2 linked regions of the Homo sapiens genome follow. The protein of the gene in region 1 interacts with the protein of each later gene in a pairwise test. Each region holds a gene or a part of one and is shown on either strand. Other genes may lie near its edges.

Evidence for each region.
Region 2: the proteins of UGT8 (region 1) and AGTR1 interact in a two-hybrid assay, tested with the Homo sapiens proteins (one large-scale study listed by BioGRID and IntAct).

What each region holds. Positions count from the first base shown.
Region 1 is NC_000004.12:114,622,503-114,626,330, reverse strand, and holds part of UGT8 (2-hydroxyacylsphingosine 1-beta-galactosyltransferase precursor), read right to left. Parts: exon of another isoform or gene 3,453-3,828; 5' UTR 3,451-3,452; coding exon 2,629-3,450; intron 1-2,628. UniProt on the Homo sapiens protein: Catalyzes the transfer of galactose to ceramide, a key enzymatic step in the biosynthesis of galactocerebrosides, which are abundant sphingolipids of the myelin membrane of the central nervous system and peripheral nervous system.
Region 2 is NC_000003.12:148,700,781-148,704,608, forward strand, and holds part of AGTR1 (type-1 angiotensin II receptor), read left to right. Parts: intron 1-3,828. UniProt on the Homo sapiens protein: Receptor for angiotensin II, a vasoconstricting peptide, which acts as a key regulator of blood pressure and sodium retention by the kidney.

The sequences.
Region 1 (3,828 bases):
CCTTCCTGTGTTACTGTCACAACAATGCCCTGTAAATAATACAGGCATTTGAGAAACTCATTAACTTTTAGAATGAAAAGGTACAGTTTATTATCTCAAATAAATCTACTAGAAAAATCTCAGTGGGAACATGTGTTCATAAGCATATAAAACCACACCAGAATAAGGAATACCTGAAAGAGTACTGCACATCATTCTTCAAAATACTCCCTGCTCAAAAACTATAAATAACATTCTGAAATGAAAACAGCCCTTCACAATGATAATCTAATAGACTTCCAATAATAATAATATACTTATCTATGTCCACATACTATATATAACACATGCACACATGCCATGTCTGTGCATGCAACCAAACTAACTGGCACAAAGCAAACTTTGTAAACAAAAAACGCATTTCAAAAGAACCACTACAAATAGCCCAGAGGAAAAAGAACTCCACAAAGAAAGTCAAGCCAGTGTCAAATGAGAAATTATGGCAAATTAAAGGATATTTTGAGTAATACCTTATGTCGAGCACCAAAAACCACTAAAAAGATGTTTTTCATGTAAAACAAAATAGTGACACTAGTAAGGACATCTGTGTGCAGAGGAATCCATGACAGAAAAAAATGCTTGGATGGTAGAAAAAAAATTATCACATGCTATGCATCTTTTTGAAAGGTAGAGTATTGAAAATAAAACATAAAATATTTTCCTACACTTATACTGTGTCATTCAAGTTGCTGCAACTCAAGACAAATATACAGCAGGAACTGGAAGGAAAGAAAAGGCAATCAGGACAGGACATTCCTTTTTTTTTTTTTTTTTTTTTTTTTAGACAGGGTCTCACTCTGACACCTAGGCTGGAGTGTAGTGGTGTGATCTCAGCTCACTGCGGCCTCGACCTCCTGAACTCAAGTGATCCTCCCACCTCAGCCTCCTGAGTAGCTGGGACTATAGACATGCATCACCATACCCAGCTAATTTTTATTTTTTGTAGAGACAAGGTTTCACTATGTTGTCCAGGCTGGTCTCGAACTCCTGGACTCAAGTGATCCTCCTGCCTTGGCCTCCCAAAGTGCTGGGATTACAGGCATGGGACACCGCGTCCAGCTCCTTTTCATCATATACTTCTTCTTCAATCAAGTGACTGAAGAAGAGAGACATCACCCAGATGAAAACCAAAGGGAGCTGGCAGAAGGGGAGTGTTCTAGCTCGGAAAAGATGATGACCTAGAGAGAACAAGGATGATTTGTGTAACATTTTAAATGACTCAGTTAAGGTAAAGACACACCTTGATTACCAAATCTTTTAGAAGCTACTTCTAAAATCTGATTTTAGCTACCTTTAGGAAGGTGACTCTGCCAGAGAAGATCTGAGGATTCAAAATGAGCTTGGATAAATTCAAGAATGGCTAAGATAAGCTGAGATTAATCCCTATCCTTTACAGTTGACGTCAGAGAGAACAAGTGTGCCCTCATGGCCTCCAGTGGCTGTATATATTTGAAATGCTGTGGGTGTACAGGCCATTTCTGTTTCCATGTTATATGAAATATATCGATATATTATTTATTAATTATAACTCTAATGGCCATATTAGAAAAGCCTACAGGTCGTATATTTCTAATCACCTTATTGCCTCACGACAAAATTCAGCCATGTGATTGTCCTCATCTATACGAGAAAATCTGGATTTACTCTTCATCAAGGCCCTGATAGAATTTTTAATATGTAGTACCAGAACTAGAAATCAACAATTTAGCAAAATTGTTTTGAGTGGCTATTTCCAGAGGTAGGATTAAAAGTAACTTGAATAAAGTCCTGCAACAAGCCCTACACTTCCTAGTAAATGGGATCTGATGTTGAGGTTAAATTGAGAGATTCAATCTGAGGTTAGAAAACTCACTACAACAATAGGTATGTGTATGGCTTCTGCTAATGTGGGATACCTAATAAAAAACAAGGATGGTGAACAGAATACCAAGGGATTTACTGTTGGCTCAATCAATAAAAAGAATTTAAGTTTCACATAGAGAACAGAGTTTCTTAAAGTGCCATTGATTCCATCATTGAAATGAAATTGCAATAGAGCATGCTTTCCTTAAAACCATTACATTTACTTACTAGCTTAAATTAACCAACTCCCTACTTTGATGGAAGTTACCACCTCACTTTCATTATTGGACATAAACTAGTGGTAATAACCTCCCAGAGAAGAACCTCTGTTCACTGACCTGAAGCTAAACATATATACCTGTTAATTGTGCTATTTGGGGCAGAACAGAGGGGATTCTGTGTGTAATTAAAGATAAAATCACTTATACTCATTAAAATTAACCATTTAACTATATTCTCCTCACATACTATAACTATTACTTAATCAGAAAACTACTTCCCAGGCAGTCTATTGACCATATGGCATAGTGGTCTTTTCAGTATTACAGAAATGCTCATTCAAAGCAGGAATGTTTCCCAGGGAAGTGGTGGACCCACATAAAGGGACTTTGGAGGCCCCATGTCCTAATCACCTTTTAGTGTACTGTATATATACAATATATATAAATAACAAATCATATCTCTTCCAAAAATCAAAATTGACTTTTACATTAAAAAAGAATTACCAAGGAATTCGGCAAACCTTACTTCTGGTAGTGGGCTGGCTGGTTTGGTTAGGATTCCTCCTACATAAACAACATTAGGCAGAGTGGGTCTTGGGAATTCCAGTGCTACGTCAGTACACAGCATCCACAGGCTGGACCCATGAACCAAATCATACATGGACTTCTCTGGCAGCAGGTTGTACTTCTGCATTATCCTTTCATATTTGGGAAGAACCAGAAAGCTGACCCCTAATCTGGAAATGAGGTAAACACCGGTATTTTTCATCCTTTGCAGCAAGTTCATGCGGTCTGTGAGGAGTGAGTTAAACTCTGGGACGTATGCTAATGGAGCAGGAGCACCCACTTCAGCAGGATACCAAAGGCCAGTTGAAAATACAGCATATTTAACCCCTAAAAGATGAGCTATCACAAATCCACACATATCATTAGGGTCCACCAGCAGCAGGTCAAATTTTTCTTTCTTCAGACCCTGGATCAGGGCATGGTTGCCAACCATCAGGTCACAGTTCTTAGTATAGTGATCCAGTATGTCAAACAGTTCGATTGCTGTCAATCTCCCAGAGAAAATATTCCGCATCTTGGACTGTAGGAAAGCATCTGAGGTGGTACTGTTAAAGATCCCTGGGTAGCGCTGGAGGCTGTAATGATTAGATGGGGCGATGTCTCTGCCTTCAGAGAGGAGGAACACTGTATGGTGGCCTCTCTCGTGCAAGGCTGAGGCTAGCGTCTTGAAAATGTACATATGGCTTTCAAACATAATTGGCGGCACGATGATGATTTTGGCAGCCTTCGCTATCCCAACAGCACTCCACAGGAGAATGAAATATGGAGTGTAAGACTTCATAGCTGTAATAACAACCAGAAAACAACTTAAAACAAAATACAATGCTCACCATTCAAAACAAGCAATCACAAAGCATTTTTCCCCAAAAATATCTGATCTAATACTTTGTCTAAAAAAAAAATCATGAACAGACACTTCTCAAAAGAAGACATTTATGCAGCCAAAAAACACATGAAAAAATGCTCACCATCACTGGCCATCAGAGAAATGCAAATCAAAACCACAATGAGATATCATCTCACACCAGTTAGAATGGCAATCATTAAAAAGTCAGGAAACAACAGGTGCCGGAGAGGATGTGGAGAAATAGGAACACTTTTACACTGTTGGTGGGACTGTAAACTAGTTCAACCATTGTGCAAGTCAATGTGGCGATTC
Region 2 (3,828 bases), on another chromosome or scaffold:
AGCAAACTGACAAATCAGCTTTCCAACACGTGATGATTGGAAAATGCTATTAGTTTCCTTCAAAATTCTCCTAATGTTTCTTTTTCAAAATTGCCTAAGATCATTGGATTATGTGGTTTGTGTTTCTTTTCACTGTAGCTGCTTGTTAAAGCAGTATACTCAATCTCTGATAAGCAACAGTAAATTTGATCGATTTGTATCCTAAATTTAGCTATCACTTTACATTTTGTTTTATTCATAATATGAACTTTAGCTTCTAAAAATCAACTTTTTAATAGCTTAATATATAAAGCCATCTTAAATCAAGGAATATCTATAGGGACTTAAGGTAATATTCAACTAAATTGGCAAGTGACTACCATTATCCTATTAAAGCTCTAAAATGCAATATTTCAATCACAGAAAAAAAATCTTATAATTTAAAGAACTATAAATTGCCAGATGTTTCCCTAGTTATTACGTTAGTGACAAATTAGACAACTGGAAATAGAAAACAGAGTATATGTTTGGAACAGTCATAAAAGGACTAGTGACTATTGCTGCTAGCTGTGGTTGTATTAACATTAAAATATTTGCTATGGGATTTTTCTTCTTATCAAAGCAGATGCTCAGATGAGGAAAAACTTTCTTGCATATGAAAATCAAAATTGTCTTCCAAAATATTTAAGTAACAAAAAATTCATTATGTAGTATAAATGCTGTATGATTACATTATTCTTATAGTTAATTTAGAAGGGTTTGAATTTGTTTTTGTTTTGTTTGTGTTTGTTTCTTCGATAGGTGCATTCTCTAACTGTCTTAAGTAGAAACAAATGTCTAGAATCTCTCAGTGATTATCAGTCTCCTTCCTATTACCAAGAATGTTTTTATTGTGTTGTTAATCTCACATGTAATTTTTTTAACATTTAAAAGTTTGGAAAATGGGTAAAAAATGAGTGTGCCTTGTTTCCTATTATTACAATGTGCCTTCCTATTTCAAGTCCCAATTCTAGATTTCCTTAAAACTTAAAATCATAGAATTAATAATCTTTCAGTTTAAGTCAACTTTTGTGTGATTTCTTGTCCACTTATACACACATAGATGCCTTCATCTTCACCAAATAATGTAGAAATTTTATTTAGTTCAATGGATTTAAGTACTCTGTATGCTTAAGTACAAAATAAGAATATTGAGAAATACACATATGATTGTGTACCTTTTTTTTTTTTTTTTTTGAGACAGAGTCTTGCTCTGTTGCCCAGGCTGGCGTGCAGTGGCATGATCTCGGCTCACTGCAACCTCTGCCTCCCAGGTTCAAATGATTTTCCTGCCTCAGCCTCCTTAGTAGCTGGGATTACAGGTGCATGCCGCCACGCCCAGCTAATTTTTGTATTTTTAGTAGAGAAGAGGTTCGCCATGTTGGCCAGGCTGGTCTCAAACTTCTGACCTCAAGTGATCTCCCTGCCTCGGCCTCCCAAAGTGCTGGGATTACAGACATGAGCCACCTCACCTGGCCTGATTTTGTACTTTTAAAGAGAATTTGTTGTTGCTAATTTGCTAAGTTTATTTAGATATTTTCTGATTCTATATTAGTCAAAGCTCCTCTTATCTACTTTGGAAAATGAAGAATTATGTCTATAAAATATATCAACAACAGCTGCAGGTACTTACAGAGGAAATACTGTGGATCTGAGTGATATTAGGCCCTGAGGATACAAGCCAAAGTATAAAAATGGTCTTTGCCGTAGAGAGATAGTAGTCAAGCTAAGCACATATTTTGGCATGGGTCTCTAATAGCCTAATGCTAGTAGGGTGGGAAGCCATTTAAAAATGGCCCCTCCTTCTGTCCTGCCTTTCAGACCAGATGGTGTGTCTAAAGTGGTCACACTGTTTGGTTCTGGCCACTTCTGTAATAACCACTGCTCCTTTCCCCTCCTCGTGAGATTATAACTCCTTTGACAGTATGGATGGCACCTAACGCATCCTTGTTTTCTTTTACTAAATGTTCCACGGAGTCACTTGCTTGCCTGTTTGTTGCTTATTTGTTTGTTTTTGGCTAAAACTACAGAAAATGTTAAATACATTTTCAGACCTTTATATTTTAAAAAAGAAATGTTAAGAAATAAATAATTTTTCTAATCTCATTTAGATACACTGTCCTATTACACACAATGACAAATTTGATGCTTTTGTCTTGCTAATTGAAGAGCTAAGCATGAATACAGTTTTTCAGTCTACAGCAGCAATGACAAGGGTAAAGTGGAGAAAAGAGTAAGGAAAGAAAAAATTAAAAAGAATAAAAGGTTGAAATATCAAATCGGTGGTTCTTAAGATGACAGAGGCAGGTGAGACAAGAATACTGGAATCACCCAGGGGGCATATGAAATCTGTACATTTCATCCACACCTTCTTTTCTCCCCCTGTCCTCATTCCCCCTGTTGAGACACATTGTATTACAAATTAGGAGGAAACCATCTAAAATTATCTCACGTATCCCAGTTCCCATATTAGCATCATGAGTATCACCTGAGAGTTTGTTGGAACTGCAGAATCTCAGACCCTGTCCAGACCCATTGATTGCATAAGAATCTGCATTTTAGCAAAATCCTCAGGTGATTCAAATGCACATTAAGGGAAAAGAAACACAGTGTACCGTACCTGTGGCTTGTTTAGAATAATTATGAAGAGGTGTTTTCTTGGCTCTTAACTAACGTTTTTAATAAAGCTAATATTTATTGAGTACATAAATGTGCCAAACACAACGTTCAGTCTTTCTTTAAATTTTTTTTATTTAATCCTCACAACAACCCTGTGAGATAGTTTCTGTTTTATCCTTATTTTATAGATTGGGATACCAAGTAATAATGAGATAAGTAGTTTACCCAAAAGCTGTAACTGATACAGTCGAGATGTAAACATAAGAATTCTAATTTCATTGCCTGTTCTCTTAGCTGTTACCTACAGTGTCTGCTCTATACTGGGCTACCTACTTTTTAAGGCCAACTAATTATTTGAAAATTTATTTAAAGTTTTAATTTGAGATCAAAATCTGTTTCCCTCATAAATTTTTTTTAAAAAAAGCAAACAAGATCTATTCCATTTTGATCTAATGTTTTCCTGTCACCTTACCTTTAAGTGCAATAATGGGAAATTCTAGAAATTCCTTCTTTAACTGTTTGAAAAAATACCAAAACTATGACAGCCTGTCCAAATCCACTAAAATATATTTTTATATGCATGCTTTTTGTATATCAATTATACTTCAATAAAGCTTTTTAAAAAAATAGTAGATGACATACTTTTAAAAATTAACTTTGGAGCCCAGGTATGGTGGCTCAGACCTGTAATCCCAGCACTTTGGGAGGATCACTTGAGGCCAGGAGTTTGAGACCAGCTGAGGCAACAAACTGAGACCCCCATCTCTACAAAAAATAAAAAATTGCCAGAGCATGGTGGCGCACACCATGTAGTAGTTGGGACCTGTAGTCCCAACTACTCAGGAGACTGAGTTGGGAGGATTGCTTGAGTCTGGGAGGTGAAGGCTGCAGTGAGCCATGATCACACCACTGCACTCCAGCCTGAGCAACAGAGAAAGACCCTGTCTCGAATAATAATAATAATAATAACAACTTTTGATATCTCTATTTTTTCCCATAAAAATCCAAAATTTTCTGTTTACTTTTTGGTGCTCTCATGCTATAAAGTAAATTCTCCCTTGGATTGGACAAGTTATTTTCTGTTTTCTACATACACATAGACTGTTCAGCATTCCAACTCAAATTACATATTACTTTTTCAGCTTTTAATATAAATGCTTATTTACTACAAGCATGGTTTACAAAAATGTA